Homo sapiens: one gene and its partners. The protein of the gene in region 3 purifies or fractionates together with the protein of the main gene of each other region. This does not show direct contact. Each region holds a gene or a part of one and is shown on either strand. Other genes may lie near its edges.

The links.
Region 1: the proteins of MTURN (region 3) and SPTB purify together in Homo sapiens (affinity purification with mass spectrometry; one large-scale study listed by BioGRID and IntAct). This does not show direct contact.
Region 2: the proteins of MTURN (region 3) and KCTD3 purify together in Homo sapiens (affinity purification with mass spectrometry; one large-scale study listed by BioGRID and IntAct). This does not show direct contact.
Region 4: the proteins of MTURN (region 3) and KCTD13 purify together in Homo sapiens (affinity purification with mass spectrometry; one large-scale study listed by BioGRID and IntAct). This does not show direct contact.

Annotation. Positions count from the first base shown.
Region 1 is NC_000014.9:64,746,967-64,751,698, forward strand, and holds part of SPTB (spectrin beta chain, erythrocytic), read right to left. Parts: intron 3,284-4,732; exon of another isoform or gene 3,189-3,283; coding exon 3,015-3,188; exon of another isoform or gene 2,731-3,014; coding exon 2,688-2,730; exon of another isoform or gene 2,508-2,687; coding exon 2,340-2,507; 3' UTR 1-2,339.
Region 2 is NC_000001.11:215,572,745-215,578,414, reverse strand, and holds part of KCTD3 (BTB/POZ domain-containing protein KCTD3), read right to left. Parts: intron 4,630-5,670; coding exon 4,576-4,629; intron 4,349-4,575; exon of another isoform or gene 4,343-4,348; coding exon 4,297-4,342; intron 2,515-4,296; coding exon 2,441-2,514; intron 746-2,440; coding exon 687-745; intron 487-686; exon of another isoform or gene 425-486; coding exon of another isoform or gene 415-424; coding exon 334-414; intron 1-333. UniProt on the Homo sapiens protein: Accessory subunit of potassium/sodium hyperpolarization-activated cyclic nucleotide-gated channel 3 (HCN3) up-regulating its cell-surface expression and current density without affecting its voltage dependence and kinetics.
Region 3 is NC_000007.14:30,136,736-30,142,405, forward strand, and holds part of MTURN (maturin), read left to right. Parts: intron 1-5,670. UniProt on the Homo sapiens protein: Promotes megakaryocyte differentiation by enhancing ERK and JNK signaling as well as up-regulating RUNX1 and FLI1 expression. Represses NF-kappa-B transcriptional activity by inhibiting phosphorylation of RELA at 'Ser-536'.
Region 4 is NC_000016.10:29,912,421-29,918,090, reverse strand, and holds part of KCTD13 (BTB/POZ domain-containing adapter for CUL3-mediated RhoA degradation protein 1), read left to right. Parts: intron 1-5,670. UniProt on the Homo sapiens protein: Substrate-specific adapter of a BCR (BTB-CUL3-RBX1) E3 ubiquitin-protein ligase complex required for synaptic transmission.

The DNA of each region.
Region 1 (4,732 bases), on a different chromosome or scaffold from region 3:
CTGGATGCCTGCATTTTCAGTCTAGTTGGTCGAATGTCTTGGAGCCTGGGTGACAGGAGGGATGTGTGGGGAGCTGGCAACAGAATGGTCACATGCAGCTGGCTGCCCTGGACCAGGCCAGGGGACCTGGGGTGGTGAGATGCTAGCTCTTCCACTAGAGCCCTTCCTTTCTCGGGTCTGTGGAGTTGCTTGCTGGAAATGCCTCACTTCAGGTGCTGATTTGGCACACGTGGAAGGGGGAGGGTGGGCCCTTGTCCCTAGGCTCCCTAAAGACTGGCCCAGGGAAACAGTTGAGGGAGATGTTTGCCACCATCTGCCCTTCAGCAAGGAACCTGCTCTCTGCCCCAGAGGAGGACATGCCTGCAAGTGCACCAAAGGCCTACTTTATTGCTAGGTGAGTGCAGTCACCTCACTGCCTTGGTTTCCCCAGATACAGAAAGAGGCTGGTGAGTGATACACACTAGGTTCCCTGTATAGGGTCATATGTACCAAAGCCAAATGAAGACCTTGCTCACCAGGGCGGGAACCTGGGGATGTCAGGCTCCATCGGATGACGTCTTCCTTCCTGTGGCTCCTGCCTGCTGCAGTTGGTGTCACCCTGACATATAGTGTCAGGGCCACAGGGTGGAACTGATTTCTGCCGGCACTGGTCAGCACTCAGGGTTCCTCAGGGGGCCTCATTCTGGATGCCTGCCCCTGTGGCTTCTACCTGAACCTCACCCACTTCATCTCCATGGAACTAAGGTCCTTCTCACGGGGAAGGTGATAGAAACTTGACTGCAGGCCCTGGGGACTTTCATGGTTTCCTTGGGGGAAAATGCCTGCTGCCCTCCGCCCTCCCCCCCACCCCCGACCCGCTTGACTGCTCTCTTGGACCTAACCCTAGTTTGATACTGGGCCAGAACTGTGTTGCTTTCGGAGTAGAGTGGTGGGGAAAATATGGAATGAGCTTTCTCTTCCTCCAGAAGTATGACCTGAGCAGCAAGGGGAAGGCCATTCCTGGGGACGTTGGTTGCAGAGCTTCTGGTGCTCAGGGCTGGAGGGTGGTAGATATTTGACCTCTGTACTCATGTGACCCCCTCCCCGCCAAGACCTGGGGCCAGGACGTGGAGAAGCTGATCAAGGGGTACCACACCTTCATGGCTCTGGCCCTGACATTTGTCCCAGTTGTGCAGGAGTAGCTGTCACATGGGTGGTGATACCAAGACATGGCTGCGTCTGCCACCCCGAGAAAACAGATGATCAACTTTACTGTCTGCCCAGCCATTACCCTCCAAAGTCCCAGCTGCAGACAGGATGCAATTGAGCATTTGGCTTTGGGATGCTTTACTGCAGGTGCGGGGGGTATCCATCTTATATCTGGGGGCCCACACTGTCCCGTAGGGGGCCTATGTCTGTTGGATATTGCTGGTTTGGCTGCCACTGGGAGTGGGGCGAGGGTCCCAGCATTGAGAGGGAGAGCCTTAGGCAGTGTTGTGACGCACCTGTCACTCCTTCAGATCAGAGCCCTGTGCCCTAGCCACGGTTTTCAATGAGGAATGGTCTGACCTTGCTGCCCTTCCTGGGACCGCCTGTGGTGGCACAAAGGGTGCTAGAGGCACTCAGCCAGGCCCTGCCAACCGTGGGAGGGTACCCTTTGATCTGGGGGGAGAAGCAGAGAGGAGGGATGTGGTGGCCCCTGAAGTGAGAGTCCCAGTTCTGCGGAAGCCCAGTGGGAAGGAGGCTGGCAGCTCCCAAGGCCCTGCACCCAGTCTGGTCCCCTCAGCCCCCCAGAGCCCCTGGCCCAGAGCTAGGGCTTTGTGGGCCACCTGAAGGCTCCTTCCTCATGCCCCTAGGGGGCTGGCCATGCATTTCCAGTGTCTTCTTCCTTTCCCCTTTCCCTGGCTGCCACCAGGTGGGAGGTGACCCGAAGCAAGACTTGCTTTAGGAACGGGCAGCGTTTGAAGAACCCCATCAGCCTTCTCCAGCTCTTTTTTTTTTTTTTTTTTGGTTGGGGGTAAGGGGCCTGTGCCCCCTCGGCTCAGGAGGAGGGTGGGAGAGGAGGGCGTGTGCCTCAGAGAACCGTTTCCTGCCCCCAGGCCTGGAGGCCCCAAAGGCGCCAGAGGAGCTGGGAGCCCCTGTCCCTGGAGCGGAGCCAGCGCGGGCGAGGGCATGGAGGGGGCGTCGGCCCAGGACACGCGGGCGAAGGCAGCTTTTGCAGTGCAGCGTGGGGCCCGGGGGCCCGGCCCGCGACTCGACTCATCTCGATTCGACCGGCGGGCGGCGGCGAGAGGAGGCCAAGGCCTGGGCTGCCCGGTCTCTGCGCGTCCCGACTCCGCCGCGCCCGCCAGCCCCACCTGCTACTTCTTTTTGGGGAAGAAGCTGAATCTCTTCTCCTTGTCTTTCTTGCCGAGGCTGGCGTCGGGGCCGGAGAGGGAAGGCAGGGGCAGGCTCTGCGCCTTGACGCGGATGCTCTGGGACTCGTTGATGGCGGTGCTCACGCCCTGCAGCCAGGACAGCATCTCCTCCTGCGGGGCGGAGGGTCACGGTGGAGTCTGGAGGCCCACAGCCCCCCACCTCCCGGGCCAGGCAACAATGGTGGGGGCTCTTGGGACTGCCCCTTCTGAGGGGGCCTCCAGGGCAAGCGGCCTGGGGTCCTCCACCTACCCCCTTCTTAGCCAGGTCTGGGCTAGGCTGCCCGCGCTTACCTCATCCTTGCCATGGAAGAGCCACTCGCTGCCATTACTCAGCCTAGGAGGACAAAGGGTTTCCTGTCATGGAGACACCTCTGGAGGGGGCGCTGGGCAGAGGGCTGGCTCTGATCCCACAATACCCTGAGCCGAACATCCAGACCCCTCTCAGGCAGCCCAGCACTTTCTGAGAGGTCAAAGTCTGGACCATCAGCCTCTTTGATTTGAAAAACCCCTGAGGAGCAGCTCAGGCCTGGCACTGGTCCCCTACAGAGGGCCTCTGCCCTGCCACTAATGCCAAATCAAGCCATCAACCCGAGCTTTCAAAGGCCAGGAAGGCCTCACCTCAGCTTAAAGACGTGCTTCTTCTTCTTGTAGTTGGCAGCAATCTCACAGATGGCATGTCTCAGGGCCAGGGGTTCCTCCCCATGGTAGGGCATCCCCAGGGCCAGGTTCTTGGCATCCTTGTAGAAGGTTAGCTCACTGTTCCTGAGCACACAGTACAGGTTGTTCCAGGACCTGCAAAGATGCAGACAGGCAGGTCACCCACATCCTGATATGGTATCTCTAGAGTCAATTCCTATAGCTTCACCATTAAAAAAAATTACACCATGTTTGTTCTGATACATAGTAACATGTTTTATTGTTAAAAAATCATCTGCATGTAATTTCATTACAAAAAATTAGCTATTATTAACATTTTATGTATTCCTTCTAGTCTTCACATTTTCGCATTTTTTTTTTTACTAGTCACAGATAGCTAAAACTGGGTTATGGATATATTCAATTTTATATCGTGTTTCTAAGCATAACACTAAATCATGAGTATTTCTCCATATCCTCAAATATTTCTTTTTTTGCCAGGCAAGATGGCTAACACTTGTAATCCCAGCACTTTGGGAGGCCGAGGCGGGCGGACCGCCTGAGGTCAGGAGTTCAAGACCAGCCTGGCAAACGTGGTAAAACCCCATCTCTACTAAAAATACAAAAATTAGCCGGGCTTGGTGGCGCATGCCTGCAGTCTCAGCTACTCAGGAGGCTGAGACAGGAGAATCGCTTGAACCCGGGAGGCGAAGCTTGTAGTGAGCCGAGATTGAGCCACTGCACTTCAGCCTGGGTGACAGAGACGAGACTTAGTCTCAAAAAAAAAGTATATATGTAATATATATTTATATATACTTTTATTATATAATTTATATAATATTTACATATTTATTATATAACATATATACCTATTATGTATAATATATATTTATATGAAATATATAAATATATAAAATATGTATATTACATTATATATCATATACTATATAATACATATTTTATACATCATATAATGTATATTTTATACATTATATATAATACATTATATATTATACATTATGTTATATATTATATATGTAGCAATTATATATTATATAATATATAACATTTATAGTATATAACATTTATATATTATACATAATATATATAATATATAATATTTATATATAATATACATATTTTTAGACAGAGCCTCTGTCACTCAGGCTAGAATGCAGTGGTGCAGTCTCAGCTCACTGCAACCTCCGCCTCCCAGGTTCAAGCGATTTTCTTGCCTCAGCCTCCCGAGTAGCTGGGACTACAGGCGCAAGCCACCACACCCAGCTAATTTTTGTATTTTTAGTAGGGACAGGGTTTCACCACGTTGGCCAGGCTGGTCTCAAACTCCTGACCTCAGGCGATCCACCCACCTCAGCCTCCCAAGGTGCTGGGATTACAGTCCTGAGCCACCACGCCCGGCCCCTATCCTCAAATATTTCTTAAAATAATTTTGAATAGCTATGTGGAAGACTTTCACAATCCCTTTATTGATGAACCTTATAATACTGGAAAATGTGCCCATAATTTAAATAGCAATGTGATGAACATTCTTACACATAAATCTGTGCCTATAATTCTGATCTTACCTTGAAGTACACTTATAGAACTATTACGTCTTAAGACCAACAGTAAAAAATTAACTTTTTACAATATTTCTACATCCATCAGTGTATTTGATTCTCACTAAAGAACTGTGAAGG
Region 2 (5,670 bases), on a different chromosome or scaffold from region 3:
ATCCAGCCCAATCAATGCTATTTATGTAAATAAAGTTGTAGTGGTTACAGTTAAACCTAGTCTTCATGTAGTATACACAGCGGAGTTAAGTGGCTGTCACAGAGATCCTCTGGCTCACAAAATCTATCTGGCTCTTTACAGAAAAAGTTTGCCAAACCCCTGCTCCAATATATAATGTGACTTAATTTCTATAAAAATCAAAAGTTCTTACCATTTCTAATAGATTTATAGACAAAAAACTCAATAATCAAGGAGCAGTTTTTCCTATTCATATGCTTGTACTTGCTTAATGATACAAGGAATTTTTTAAAAGATTTAATAAAGTGAAAATACCTGGTGGGGGCAAGTAACCATGAAAAAGGACACTGCCACAAGAGGAACGCTCCAATTCTTCACATAAGAGAAGCCTTCTTACTAAAAACATTTCAAAGCAAACTTGTCAAGAGTACATGCAAACAGAAAAACAGTACTCCATTTTTATTTTCTCTAGTTCAAGAGGATAAGGAAAGAAAAGGAAAATTTTAATTAAGTCAGAGTTGACAACATCTTTTTACTATGAAAATCCACAAAAACTAAGCACTGAACAAGTCCATCAAAAATTAGGACCTGATATAAACACATTTCATTTAGGGCAACTTTCATACATGAGTCAAATCATAAACACCAAATATTAAAAGAGCACATACCTAATGGAGTGATCCCGTAAAATTCTGCTTCATGCCTGAGAACATTAATACTCACTCCCCTACAAAGAAACAAATGATGTAAATTCTCTAACACTGGAAACCTGTATTATCATCTGACATGAAAGGAAAAAATTCTAGGTTCTTCATGTATATAGTCATAAGGCTTTAAAAATTATTTTCCTCCTAATACTCTTTATTTCTATTATCCTTAATCATTAAAAAGTGTAAATAAAAACTGCATGTGAACAAAAATATTCTGTTATCTACTTAAAAACCATTCATATATATACATATATATGAATTGGGTCACTAAAGGAGAGATTAGGGCTCTATCAGGCTAGTACAAATAAATTGTCTAGAAGGCAAACGATAGAATGGAAACCATTCTTTTATGGCATTAGTTGCTTTTAACTTTTTATCGCAATTATTTCTATACATATCTATCTTAATCTCCCCAATTACACTATAAATTCCCTGCGAGCATGATCTATTTCTGATCTATGTTTGTATACCTCACAGTGCCTAGCATAGTGCTTGTATAAAATAGTTATGTAATAAATATTTGTTGAACAAATAAAATAGAAAAAAAAAAAAGACTAGCCTTGGGAAGGGCTATGTTATCCAGATGAAATGATGCTACTTCATAGTAGTAAAGTTAAGTAACATGAAATAAAATTTTTAAAAAATGGAAGATTCAGAACTTATAATACTAATAATTCATCTTAGGTTTCAGTTGTAATTTGTCCTTATTTTAAAAATATTCCCCAGCCTTGATAAATATATACAATTACTATGTTAAATTGTTTTTATTTGTGAAACTGGTTATGACTAGTTTAACATTAAAAATGCTTAAAACTTTGTGTCTGGGGGCGGTGGCTCACACCTGTAATCCCAGCACTTTGGGAGGCCAAGGCGGGTGGATTACGAGGTGAGGAGATGGAGACCATCATGACTAAAACGGTGAAACCCCATCTCTACTAAAAATACAAAAAAATTAGCCGGGTGTGGTGGCGGGTGCCTGTAGTCCCAGCTACTTGGGAGGCTAAGGCAGGAGAATGGCGTGAACCCGGGAGGTGGAGATTGCAGTGAGTCTGGGTGACAGAGTAAGACTCAGTCTCAAAAAAAAAAAGCTTCAAACTTTCTTATTCTATTTCGAAACTATTTGTGTTAACAGTACAGCAGTACTGGCCAGAGGCATGATCATAACTCACTGCAGCCTCAAACTCCCGGCCTCAAGGGATCCTCCTGCCTCAGCTTCTTCTCTAGAGTAGCTGGGATTATAGGCGTGTACCACCACATCCAGTTTCAGTGTGAGGAAACTTTTAATCAAAGTCTTAGTAAAAAAAAAAAAACCTTTTCTGGCTGGGCGTAGTGGCTCATTCCTGTAATCCCTGCACTTTGGGAGGCTAAGGCGGGGAGACTGCCTGAGCTCAGGCGTTTGCAATCAGCCTGGGCAACACAGTGAAACCCCTTCTCTACTAAAATACAAAAAATCAGCCGGGCATGGTGGCATGTGCCTACAGTCCCAGCTACTCGGGAGGCTGAGGCAGGAGAATTGTTTGAACCTGAAAGGCGGAGGTTGCAGTGAGCAGAGATCATGCCACTGCACTCCTGCACTCCAGCCTGGGCAACAGAGCAAGACTGCAACTCAAGGAAAAAAAAAAACAAACAAAAAAAACCTTTTATTTCATAAAACATATTAAAAACACATATTTATCAGTAAGAATTTACTTTAAAAAGAGTGCATTTCTTACCTTAAGTCTAGTTCTTTTGTCCGAAGAAAATTTAAAATGGGTGCAAATGCTGCTGGATCTCTATCAATAAATATCTGTAAAAAAGAGAACAGTTTTATTTTCAAATTACAAATTAATCTTTTAACTTTAATATCTGTAACACTAATAGGGAATGAAGTCTTAATTACTTAAATACTACATTTCCTTGTTTCCACTCTTAAACTTTAATGTTTCTAAAATTGGAATGTAGTCTGTGTGCATTTCATGAGATGGTGTCTTTTTCTTGAGATGGTGTCTTTTTCTTCCTCTGAATAGTTATTATTAAACTGATATTTTAATACATAGAAAAAATCTTGTCTAATAAAATCACTTGTATTGATACCTTTGGTAAAAGTGACACCTGAGGAAACATTTTTATCTGAAACAGTCTAGAATTCAATTAATACTTCGAAAACATGAATAAATAATACTTTCTTATACTGTTCAATCATTAAAACTACAATGTACTTTAATAATGCACACAGGGGTACTTGAGAAAAGTAAATACTGCACACTGCTGTCAAAAGTGGAAAAGAATACTATTCTCATAATACTTTTACTAATCTCAATTTCCTTCAGAGCTGGGGAAAGGTAATGACAATTTTTTTTTTTTAAACTAAAGCACCACAGAATACATAAGAGGAAAACAAATTGCTTAAAAATGTAAAATACATAATTGGTAACTTTTGTTTGTTTGTTTGTTTTGAGACAGCATCCTGCTCTCTCATCTAGGCTGGAGTGCAGTGGCACGATCTGGGCTCACTGCAACCTCCACCTCCTAAGTTCAAGCAATTCTCCTGCCTCAGCCTCCTGAGTAGCTGGGATTAGAGGCACCTGCCACTATGCCGGGTTAATTTTTCTGTTTTTAGTAGAGAGGGGGTTTCACCATGTTGGCCATGCTGGTCTTGAACTTCTGACCTCAGGTAATCCACTTGCCTCGACCTCCTAAAGTGCTGGAATTACAGGCATAAGCCACCCCACCCAGCCCATAATTGATAACTTTTTATGGAAATTTATACCAACACCTATTTTGAATCATTTACAAAAGATCTGGCCATAAAAACGGAACATCTTTTAAAGCTTATGTAAATCAATTAGAAAGGGAAATGGCAGCCAGTAATAAAACTCTTCCTACTATGATCAACTATATATATACAATCAATGAGATTCTTCTAAGCTTTATAAATTTTCTTTTGTTTTCATTAGAGCACATCAAAAATCGAAGAGACATCACAGATTTGTGGAGATCTTATTATTGATAACTTTTTATAATTTCACATGGACATATCTGCATTTGTTGCCTTATTTCATCTGCAAATCTCACCACAGCAAATAAATACCATTGGTCACTTTGTTGCCTCCAAATGGATAAACCAATTTTTTTGCACTGAAACTTTACAATTCTTTCCTTCCCTCACTGTACCAATGCTGTATAAACAAATTCGCAAGGTTATTCTCCAAAATAAAATAAAAAACTGTAGGAGTTTACTAATTTAACCTCTTATATTCTAATATAAAAATATTAGAATATTTACATTTATCCACTTACTGTTAAAGTTTCAATTATTGATCTAAAAAAATTTCTTCTAATGCCAATGTAAGCTCATATCCTACAATCTCTCTAATCATGAATACTTAAATTGCCATATATAGTATTCCCTACTTAGGGATCTTCTCTGATTATAAAAAACTACATATGACAAGAAATAAAATTATGCCACTTTCATTCAGTGATTATTAAAATATCAGTTCTCCTATATTCTTAGAGTAACTATATGTTAGGACCAAGCACTATAAGCATTAATTTAGGAATATGTATCAATTATTATTATACTCACAGCACCAGTTTCATCTCGAAGTGTTGAAATTCTCCCACTCAGCAAACTGGAAGTCATTAATAATCTAAAGTTAGTTTTTAAAATCTGAGTATAAACAAATGTGCTAATTCTTTACCAAATGTTAAAGACCACTAAAAGTAAGTTATCTATCTTCCAAGTTCAAAAATATATAATTTTAAGAGTTAACCTTTTTTATTAAAAAAAATTTAACTGACAAACATTATTATATTTTGGTAAATAAATGTATTAAAATATACACTAAAGAATTATAAGACATACCTGGAAAAAAAAGAATCTGGAATCCACATAAGAGTTTGTCTTGAGGTACTAAATCTGCAATTAAAAATCATCTGGTATTATAAGTGAGAACATGATTTGAAATTTCAGTATTAGTTAACTTGTTTTAATACACTGGCTAATGATTTACAAGATGTTTTATAGTTATAGCTGTACCAATATATTTATTACAGTTAATATTTTTAAACGTTGCTACTTTCAATTCAGAGTTAAGATTATACAAGCAGCTCTCAATAACAATAAACAACTTGTTATCCGCCATATAATGCATCTTAAAACACTACTTTCCAATAAGCTAATCTCTGCTGAAGAATCAACAATTAGCCCATCACACCAAGTCTCAACTTCTCAGTATAACATTCAAAATTACCTTCAGGTTCCATCTCATCTCTCCAGTACAAATGCTGGTTTTCCCCTCTAATAGGACAAAACTTCTTCATATCCCCAAAAAATTCATGCTTACTACCATTTTGGTATCTTTATTCAGCTAGATCACTCTCTTCATGTCCAATAATTCAAGATCCGTCCATCTTTCTTGATACCACTCAGGTTTTACCTTCCCTGTAATAGTTTTTCTAAATATCCAATCCTGTATTATCTCTTTTTAAGCTCATAGTAATTTCACTGTAAATTACTCATTTAACACCTTCTTTATAGGCAGTCTTGGGCTATCTGCAACTGCTGACTTCATTCATTCAAAAATCATTCAGCCAAATACATCACTGTTCTGAGGTTGTCATTTGATCAAGCTTGTATATTACCAAGGGAGGATCTTTACCAAAGTACAGTATAATAGACTGGGACAACAAACCAATAATTTATGTAAACTGATATGGCAAACAAAGCAATATAGTACTTGTTCAGTCCAGCCCTTCTCTGAGTATTTTCATTTTAAGATATCACCTTGAACTACAATGTTATCTCACCCAGCCTAGCAAACCTCTACTTTCACTCCACATTTATTTTCTGGCATTATATGAAATCCCTAAATTTATTTTTACCTTTCATACTTAAACTAAACAAGGTGACTGAATAGTGGCACTAGTTACCATGCACTATCACCAGGAAACACAGGCC
Region 3 (5,670 bases):
GAGTTCTGGCTCTGTGACTGTGCTCAAATACCCACCCTGAGCTCAGTTTCCACATCCAAAAAAATAGGTATAATAATGCCAGCACCCAGGCGTTCATATAGGTAACGCACCGAATAGTCCCTAACACACAGCAAGAGCCCCACAAATTTGGGGTTAGAGACCTGGGGTTTCCCAGAATTTAGAGCTTGTCTCATTTTTTAAAGAGCCTTGGTTTTCCCACCTGTAAAATGGGGCTAATCAGAATACCTCCAGAAGAGCCAACTGAACAATAATATTAATGCCTGTAAGCCCATCTTAACTGTAGGTAAAGTAAGTAAATAAGTGTTCTTTTTGGAAGGAGTGGGAGATCATTAAAAAGGGATTCACTCCATTGCAAAAGTGTGAGAAAGCCCCCAGGATACAGTGGAAAGGGCACCAGAATCCAGCTGACTGTAAAATGTTAGGGTTTGGCTAGGGTCCCTTCCAGCTCTGGGCTTCCTTCATCTGCCAGCGCCCTTTCTCCCTCCTGACCGTGTGAAACAGGGCAAGAATGGCTCATGGTTCTGGATTTCACTGGGGAGAAGCCCACACAGCCTTCCTGCTGGGACCGCCCAGGCCATACCCAAAGAAATGACTCCAAAGACAGTAAGTGGGCCAGGAAGACAAAAGGCTGTTCTCTTGCCATGAATATGTGTATCCAACCATCGTTCAGAAGTAAGAAGTATTATATTATTTGTATCAGGCCTTTCTCTTGAGGCCACCCAGATTTTAAATATTTTCCCATCTGCATGAGAAAAATGCTTGAAAGTGTCATGTAAACTGACAATTTAAATAGAATAGATAGAAAGATAGAGGATGGGGGTGGGCAGATGATTCCTTGGGTAGAATGGAACTTTCTCCAAGTTCTGGAGGCTCTAATGGACAAGATGCCAACCTCGGGAGTTTTCCTAGCCGGACCTCTTGAATCTGTCCCAGGCCAGGTTTGTCAAGCTACTGTTTGCCTCTAATAAGTGTCCTGCCTTAGTTCTTTTCTTTTTCCCTGGAAAATGTATTAAGCATTAGACAAAAGTGTGAGATCAATGGAATTTCTATTAGTTGAAGGACTTAGCAATAAGAATGTCTACATGAGCATTTCTCAATTTACAAAAGTATTTCCACATCATTCATTCATTCATTCAACAAACATTTATTGAGGGTTTACTTTGTGCCAGGCCAGTGCTATCTAGAATACAAATAGGGTCTCTGCCTTCATGTTCCTGGGGCAATTTTTACTTGTCTAGGAAGCAGTGTGGTGTGGTGGTTAAGCACACAGGCTGTAGATCAGACTACTTGGGTTTGCACCTCAGCTCCCCGTATTTGTGTGCCTTGGGAAAGTTATTTAACCCCTCTATGCCATACTTTTTTTTTCTTTTTCTTTTTTTGAGACAGTCTTGCTCTGTCGCCCAGGCTGGAGTGTAGTGGCGTAATCTTGGCTCACTGCACCCTCTGCCTCCCGGGTTCAAGTGATTCTTGTGCGTCAGCCTCTCCAGTAGCTGGGATTAAAGGCGTGCACCCCACGCCCAGCTAATTTTTCTATTTTTCGTAGAGACAGGGTTTTGTTACGTTACTTAGGCTGGTCTCGAACTCCTGGGCTCAAGTGATCCTCCCACCTTGGCCTCCCAAAGTGCTGGGATGATAGGCGTGAGCCACTGCACCTGGCCTCTATGCCATAGTTTCTACATCTGTAAAATCGGGATGATAATATTAGTACCTCCTGAGCAGAGTTGTTTGAGAAAGGTATCTAAAGTAGGGGCAGCTTAGATAGTCTAAGCCACTGTCATTTTTCATCGTGTCTCCTAATTTGTCTCCTTGCTTATAACCTCCACCTCACTCTTACTGTAGTACTGAAGTGGAGGTACTAAATAGATCCAAAATGACTGCTTGGGGAGACTGACTCTAAGCCACTGTCTACCCAGCAGTCATTTTGGATCTATTTAAAATATAAGCCAGATCATGTCACCACTATCCCCCACCTCAGCTGAATTGACTTCCCATCTTTTATAATAAAACCTAAGCCCTTACCCTGGCCCCAAGCCCCCACATGATCTACCTTCCTGCCACACAGACCCTGCTGGTCCTCAGATGTGCCAAGCGCATTCCTGCCTCAAGGCCTTGGCACTTGCGTTCTGTCTGCCTAGAACCCTCTTGCCCCAGATCTTTCCACGGCTGGCTCCTCGATGCTCCTGAGGCCCAAGAGAAGCCTTCCTGACCACATGTTCTTAGATCTCACCCTCTTTTATTCTTCCCATAGCACTCGTTAGACTTGGCATTCTCTTTTTGGTTTTCTGCCACTGCCACTAGACTCTAAGCTTCATGAGAGCAGAGGCCTTGTCTGTGTTATCACTGTGTTCTGGCATTTGGAGCAGCATCCATACATGATGGGTGCTCAGTACATATCTATAAGGATGAATAAATTATAGTCTAGTGTAAAAGACATGTCAAATGTCAAGAATTCAGTTTCAAAGAATAATAATAATAGCCATCACTTATGTTCAGTTTACTATGTAGCAGACGCTGCTCTCGGCACTTTACATATGCCAACTCATTTAACTTTAGTACTCTCACATAATTATATAATCTCTATAATTATCTCTGTTTTACAGAGGAAGAAACTGAGGCATGGCAAACTTTACTAACTTTTCCACAGTTAATAAGTGGTAGAGCAACTTCAACTATAGCCCTGTATTTAATGCATGGCATCACAGGAGTGACAACATGGGACCCAATCTAGACTGGGTTCAGGGAGTGCTTCTTATTGGGCCTCACAGAAATTCATTGAGGTAGATATTATTATTCCCACTTTATAGGCAAAGAAACTGAGGCTCAGGGAGTTTAAGAGATTCATCCAGGACTGTACCACTAAGAAGTGACAGAGCAAGGACTTGAGACCAGAGGCCTGTCCTCTCCACCATGCAGAACAGCCCACAGGTGGGGTCAGGCCAGTAGTTCCAGGGGCCCATGTTTAGTAAACAGGACGCCTGTTTATTTTTCCTCCATTTTGGGTCCCTTGCACACTCTTTCTCTATCTCGCTCCACAGGCCATCCCATCCATGCCGACCCTTTCCAAACTGTCCCTCTACCTGGGACCCCTCTCTGTGGGCCCCATGATCAGGGCCTGGGGTGAAACAAAGCTGCTAGTGCCCTGTGTGTGGAGGAAATTCAAGGGCATGGCCACCCTGCCTGGCTCTACAGGTTTGATAAGGGAGGGCTCCTGGCCCTGGTCAGAGGGGTCCAAGGAGTCCTTTCTGCCAACTTGGAAGGTCCTTCGGGGCTTGGTAGGCTTGGAATGGGGTGTCAGCAGCCACTTGGATGCCAGATAAACAGAGGGGCACTCCTAGGCATGGAGCACCAGCTGCGTTCCTTCCTTGTCTTAGGCCACGAGAAATGAGGTCTCTGAACAAAGAGCACTGCCCAGCCCATCTGGGGGCCTGGATCCTGATGATTGTGGGAGAGAGGGAGGGATTCATTTCCCAGATTGCCCAGCCTTTCCTGTCAGCCCAAAGACACGTTGGACTCTAAAATTTTGTATAGTTTAATCCCTCCTCAGCACAAAAACAAAGGTAGTAATCATGATATTATTAAAGAAAAAGGCTTTATTTATGGCAGGACTGTGATTTAATTTTACATGTGTTTGTAGAGGGGTGTGTGTGTGTGTGTGTGTGTATCCCCATTTGTGGTCTGAACACATCTTTATTATTAACTATGTGATCAAATAACAGCCTTCTTATTTGGATAAAGAAAATAGAACTTATTTAAATGAGATTGAGTCCCGCTTATGTGCTGGTATAGTGGAGAGAAAGTACTTTCTTGTTGATTTAAACTCTACCCTGTTTCCTCCTCTGTCAGATAGGGACAGTCATGCCTGTATTACATGATTAGTGTGGGGATGAAATGAAGAGCTGTGCATGTGATGTGCTCAGTAGACATAAGGCCATTCCACATTGGCTGTGCCTGTTCATATAGAGAGGTTATTTCTGGGAAAATGAGAGGTCCTTTGTATATTCTTTGAGTGGTAGTCATGAGGAGAGTAGTTACGTCAATACAAGCTCAAGTGGATGGGCATAATCGCTTATTGGGCCCCTGCTAAATGAGAGTCAGTCTACAGGTTGTCCCCTGAAATCTTTAGATTCCCCCTGTAAATATAATTATTTTCTGTGACTTACAAATGAATACACGAGGCTCCGGTTAAACATTGCGCACAGAGTGTAGTTGAAAGGGTGCACACTCCTCCGTTGACATTCTGGCTCTGCCCTTGTTCCCTGTGTGACCACAGGCAAGTTACTTAACCTCCCTGAGCCTCAATTTCCTCACTGGTAAAATGGGTCAGTGGCTGACACACAGATCGGGCTAGTCCTAGGTATGGCCAGCTGTGCTCTTCCCACCATGTGCAGTGGCTCACACCTGTAATCCCAGCACTTTGGGAGGCCGAGGCGGGCGGATCACCTGAGGTCAGGAGTTCGACACCAGCCTGGCCAGCCTGGTGAAACCCCGTCTCTACTAAAACCACAAAAATTAGCTGGGCGTGGTGGTGGGCGCCTGTAATCCCAGCTACTTGGGAGGCTAAGTCAGGAGAATCAATTGATCCCGGGAGGCAGAGGTTGCAGCGAGCCAAGATCGCACCACTGCATTCCAGCCTGGGCGACAGAGCAAGACTCCGTCTCAAAAAAAAAAAAAAAAAAAGAGAAAAAAAGAAATATGTTGGGAGGCGTGTGGTGGACTGTGGCTTTTATCTTTTTCTGCCATCTGTTTCCAGGACAAGAATCAGGGTTTTGTTTTGGTATTTTATTTTGGAAACAGGGTCTCACTCTTGCTCACGCTGGAGTACAATGGTGTGATCAGAGCTCACCGTAACCTCAAATTCCTGGGCTGAAGCAGCCTGCTGCTTCATCCTGGCAAGTAGCCAGGACTACAGGTGCGCACCACCACACCCAGCTATTTTTCTTATTTTTTGTGGAGACTGGAGTCTTGCTCTGTTGACCAGGTGGTCTTGAACTCCTGGTCTCAAGCAGCTCTTCCGCCTTGGCCTCCCACAATGTTGGAATTACAGGTGTGAGCCACCAGGCCTGGCCAGGGATCCATTTTGGATTAAGACACACCAATTCAAAATGGACTCCCTCGGTACCGAGTGGCAGAAAACCCCCACTTCAGTACTCCAGTAAGAGTGAGTCCCAGAGCAAGGGCCCCAGAGGGAGGAGACACAGGAGTGTGTTCTTACCTCCCCTGCCACCCCCACCCTGCTTAAGCACCAGGAAGTCCAGCTGCATACCCACCAGGATTTAGAATAGTAGGGGTGCACACATTGTGCTCCCCCAAAAATGTCTGTAGGGTTGGACTACTTTAATGACTGGAGACCACTTTTTGATAAACTGGATATTCCGATCTACATTGTACAAAACAGGAAGGTGCTCATTTTCCTATTTGCAGGTGACATAGTTATATTCTCTTAAGCTGGGCAAGCTTTTATGATAAACTCTGGCCTGACTTCACAGGAAGAAGGGTCGCAGATGGCCTATACTCAAATCAAAGTGCTTATCGGATTTTCTGTAGGAAAGAGTAGACCACTCAGGCCAGGTTCGATGACAGCCACTTCACTGCAGCTCAGGCCAACCTGAGATTTGGAGCTGGCTATAGTCAGTAATGGCAATTGCTGTA
Region 4 (5,670 bases), on a different chromosome or scaffold from region 3:
TGTCAACTTGAAAAATTCTTGATTTGGATGTAGTCCAATTCCTCACCATTTTTTGCCTAATGCTGTATCCTTATGGTCTTGTTTAAAAATGTTTTTCTGATTTTCTGTTACCTGTGAGCTTTGTAGTTTTATTTTTATTTTTTGAGGCAGAGTCTTGATCTGTCACCCAGGTTAGAGTTCAATGGTGTCATCTCGGCTCACTGCAACCTCCACCTCCCAGGTTCAAACAATTTTCATGTCTCAGCCTCCCGAGTAGCTGCGATTACAGGCGTGCACCATGACACCTGGCTGATTTTTTATTTTTTATTTTTCTAAATGGAGTCTCACTCTATTGCCCAGACTGGAGTGCAGTGGCATGATCTCGGCTCACTGCAACCTCTGCCTCCCGGGTTCAAGCGATTCTCCTGCCCTAACCTCCTGAGTAGCTGGGATTACAGGCGTGCACCACCATGCCTGGCTAATTTTTGTATTTTAGCAGAGATGGGGTTTCACGACGTTGGCCAGACTGGTCTCGAACTCCTGACCTCGTGATCCGCCCGCCTTGGTCTCCCAAAGTGCTGGGATTACAAGCATGAGCCACCACACCCGTCTAATTTTTGTATTTTTTGTAGAAAGGGGGTTTTGCCATGTTGGTCAAGCTGGTCTCAAACTCCTGAGCTCAAGCGATCTGCCCACTTCGGCCTCCCAAAGTGCTGGGATTACAGGTGTGATCCGCTATACCTGACCTATAGTTTTAAATATGGATTTTTTTCATATATGGGTATTTTAATCTAAATGGAACTCACTTTTGTAAATATGATTGTGAAGGGATTTAGCTCATTTTTGTCTTCCATAGGGTGAGGTAGTTTTCCCAGTGCCAGGTATTAAACAGTCCAGAGGTAGCCAGCACCCAAGACAGCCACCAGGGGTTCTTGCCTCCTGGTTTCCAGGCTCTTGTTCAGTCCCCTCCCACACCAAATAGGGCAGACCTTTTCAGATCCTCACCAAGGAGACCCTTGTGTATGACCAATAGGACATTGCAGAAATGACAGCATGTGACTTTGAAGCTAGGTCATAAAAGACATTACAGCTTCTGCCTCTCTTTGAGATCACTCACTCTATGTGAATGCTATGTGAGGACACTCAGGCATCCCTAAGCAGAGGTCCACTTGGTGAGGAACTGAAGCCCCTGCCGACAGCAAGCACAGACTCCCCGCCATAGTGGTGACCTGTCTCAGAACCAGAGCTTCTAGGCCCAGGCAAACCTTCTGATGACTGCAGCCCTAGCCAAAATCCAGACTGCAGCTTCATGACAGATTCTGGGCCAGGGCCACCCAGCTAAGCCCATCCCAAATTCCTGACCCACAGAAACTATGTGAGATAATGTTTATTTTTATTTATTTATTTTTAAATAGAGACAGAGTCTTGCTCTGTCGGCCAGGCTGGTCTCGAACTCCTGACCTCAAGCAGTCCTCCAGCCTTGGCCTCCCAAAATGCTGAGATTACAGGCATGAGCCTCCACACCTGGACTGTTGTTTTAAGCTGCTGAGTTTGTAGTAATTTGTTACCCAGTAACAGAGAACAGACTTTGGTTTCTGGAATGGGGGTCTGCCATAACAGAAACCTCAAATGTAGAAGTAACTTTACAACTGAGAAGTGGGAAGAAGCTGGAAGGACTTTGAGGAGATTGTTAGTAAAAGCTTAAGGAGTGTTAAAAAGTATTGGCTGGGCACAGTGGTTCACACTTGTAATACCATAACTTTTGGAGGCCAAGGTGGGAGGATCACTTGAGTTCAGGAGTTCGAGACCAGCCTGAGCAATATAGTGAGACCTTGTCTCTAAAAAAATTAAAAGAAAAAAGGTGAGAAAGTCTGTTAATAAGAGTCCAGTGACCTTTAAGACAGCTGCAATAAGGGCTTGAAGAACAGTTAGGAAAATGCTATTGGAAACTGATGGAAAGGAGATCCTTGTGTAGCGGCAGAAAGTTTAGCAACACTGTCTCCTGCATTAGTGTGGAGGGTAGGAAATATACCTAAGGAACGGATGGTCTAGCTAAGGAGCTTTCCAGACAGAATGTTGAAGGTGCCACCTGGCTTCTTGCTGCTTATAGTAAAACTGAAGAGGAGAGAGTAAGTTAAAGAAAAAAAACACTTAAATGAAAAAGAGCCTGAAATTGTTGGGTTTGAAAATTCCCAGCCTTTCCAGATAACAAGTGATGTTAAAATTAACAAATGGCTTCCGTGCAAAGATTAAATACAAGGCATTAAATACAGGGAAATGTGGTCTAAAGGTCAAGCTGAGGATGTGATGAAAAAGTCCTTTGTTAAGACCTCAGAAATACCAACAAGATGCCTCAGAGGGGACTTCCAGTCGAATGAAATAATAATCACGCTTCTGAGAAGGTTAAAGGTGTTGTCTTTCAGCGTCTCAGCACAAGCCCAAAGTAGAGAAGGGCTTACCTTGCAGAGATTTTCTTTTTTCTTTTTCTTTTCTTTTTTTTTTTTTTGAGATAGCTCACTGCAACCTCCTCCTCCTGGGTTCAAGTGATTCTCCTGTCTCAGCCTCCTGAGTAGCTGCGATTACAGGTGCCCACCACCACGCCCAGCTAATTTTTGTATTTTTAGTAGAGATGGGGTTTCACCATGTTGGTCAGGCTAGTCTCAAACTCCTGACCTCAGGTGATCCACCCACCTCGGCCTCCCAAAGTGCTGGGATTACAGGCGTGAGCCACTGTGCCTGGCCACTTGCAGAGATTTCTAGGTGTGGCTTTTTTCTAATGTAGTGAACCCTAAGACATGCAAGATACCCAATAAGTTATGAAGAGAATTATATTGGCAGAGACACTGCCAGCTTGGACTGAAAGGGACAGAGCCAGTGCAAAAGGACAAGACGGCTTTGCACACCCAAACTTTTACAGGCAGGAAGCAGGCAGATGAAACTGTGGAGCTGCAAACATCTTTCATGGAAGAGGTGGGACGACTCAGGGAGAGCCATGGAGAATCATTCATGAACAGGAGTAGGCATCAAAGAGTTCCTAGCATTTCTCCAACTGGATTACAGAATTTCCACACACCAGTGACTTATATGTATGACTTATATGTGCCTCCTGTCCCCTGCCCCACTTTTTTTTTTTTTTGAGACAGAGTCTTGCTATGTTGCCCAGGCTGGTCTCGAACTCCTGGGCTCAAGTAATCCTCCCACCTTGGCCTCCTGAGTAGCTGGGATGACAGGCACACGCTACCACGCCCGGCTTCCCCTGCTTTTGAGCAAGAATGTCCTTACTGGTTATCCTGTGCCTGCCTCTACCACTGCACACTGGGAGTGTGGAGATGACCTGTCTCTTTAGCTCACAGGTCTGCAGATAGGAAATGCACTTAAGGGCTGGATGCGGTGGCTCACGCCTGTAATCCCAACACTTTGGGAGGCCAAGGCAAGTGGATCACCTGAGGTCAGGAGTTAAAGACGAGCCTGGCCAACATGGTGAAATCCCGTCTCTACTAAAGAAAATTAGCTGGGATGGTGGTGCATGCCTGTAGTCCCAGCTACTTGGGATGCTGAGGCAAGAGAATCACTTGAACCTGGGAAGCAGAGTTTTCAGTGAGGTGAGATGGTGGTGGCTCTGCACTTCAGCTTGGGAGACAGAGCAAGACTCCATTTCAAAAAAAAAAAAAAAAAAGAAATGCACTTAAGGAGCCATAGTTACGGAACTGCATGCTAGAGCCACATCCCCACCTGGACCTGACTGAGATGATGAGATTCTGTACTTTGAGCTGATGCTGTAATGGGATGATGGGGGATCCTGGAAGGTGGTGAGTATATTTGGCATGTGGGAGGGGGGAAATCACTGAGAGCCAGCGGTGGCCTGTGGAGCCAGCCACCAAGGCAGCCTGATGATTCTCGTCCCCTGGTGCTCGTTCCTGTGTGTCATCTCCTTCCTCACTGGATAGGACCAACAGACCTAGGTCATAAAAGACAATGGAGGGGCCCGGCGCTGTGGCTCACGTCTGTAATCCCAGCACTTTGGGAGGCTGAGGCGAGTGGATCACCTGAGGTCGGGAGTTTGAGACCAGCCTGGCCAACATGGTGAAACCCTGTCTCTACTAAAAATACAAAAATTAGCTGGGCGTGATGGCACACCTCGGTAATCCCAGCTACTTGGGTGGTTGAGGCAGGAAAATCACTTGAACCTGGGAGGCGGAGGTTGCAGTGAGCCGATATTACGCCACTGCACTCCAGCCTGGGCGACACAGTGAGACTCCATCTCAAAAATAAAAAAGACAATGAGGCTTCCACCTTGCCCTCTCTGGAATTATTTGCTCTGGAGAAGCCAGTTGCCATGCTGCGAGGATACTCAAGCAACCCTGTGGAGAGATCTACATGGCAGGGATTTGTTGTTTCCTGCCAGCAGCTAGTGCGAACTTGCCAGCCACATGAACAAGCTTTCTCAGAGTGCATCCTCTAGGGGCGGTCATGCCTTTGATGCCCACAGCCCCACTGACATCTTGGCCACAGCCTCAGAAGAGACCCTGTGCCGGAGCCACCCAGCCGAGCCACTGCTGAGATCCTGACCCTCAGAAACAGAAGTAATAAATATTGTTAATTTAAGCTCCTAAATTGGGGGCAGTTTGTTACACAGTGATAGATAACGAATTCATACTCCGTAATTCCCCTCGCACATTTGTGGTGTCTTTTTAAAAATACCAATTCTCATATACACAGTGGTCTGTTTCTGATCGCTCTGTTGTGTTTCTCAGGTATTTTTGTTTCTGTGCCCGAACTGATACCGTTCTCACTGTTGTGGCTTTGCAGCCTATCTTAATATCTGGCAGGGTCGGCCTTTCCTCTTTGCTCTTATTTTTAAAAACTGACCTAAGTTTGGGAGGATGGCTTGAGCCCAGGAGGTCAAGGCTGCTGTAAGCTGTGGTCATGCCACTGCACTCAGCCTGGATGACAGCAAGACCCTGTCTCAAAAAAAAAAAAAAAAAAAAAATGGCCTCAGTAATTGTAGACTTTTATTATTCTCTGTTAATTTTAGAGAGTCTTATGAGTTTCTGCAAAAAACAAATCTGGAATTTGTATTAGAATTGCGCATTGAGTTTTCAAGGTTGGGAGAAGTGAGAGGGATTTTGGCATGAAGATTCTAGAAGACAGAAGAGAAAGAAGCCCATGGGTTTGCTTCAGATTTCTTTCTCCAACGTCATCCCACCCAATGAAGTTCATTCACTCAACAAATATGTTCATTCATTCAACAAATACAGAGCATCAGCTGTATACTAGGTAGTTATTCCTAGGTGGGAAGAGACAGATCATAAACAAATACAAAAAGTTAGAAAAAGTCAGACACTAACTGCTGTGTAGAAAATGAACTGATAGGCCTGGTGCAGTGGCTCACGCCTGTAATCCCAGCACTTTGGGAGGCTGAGGCGGGCTGATCACCTGAGTTCGGGAGTTCATGACCAGCCTGACCAACATGGAGAAACCTCGTCTCTACTAAAAATACAAAATTAGCTGGGTGTGGTGGCACATGCCTGTAATCCCAGCTACTCAGGAGGCTGAGGCAGGAGAATTGCTTTAACCCGGGAGGTGGAGGTTGCAGTGAGCCGAGATGGCGCCATTGCACTCCAGCCTGGGCAACAAGCGAAACTCTGTCTCAAAAAAAGAAAAAGAAAACTGATAACACAAAAGGCAGGA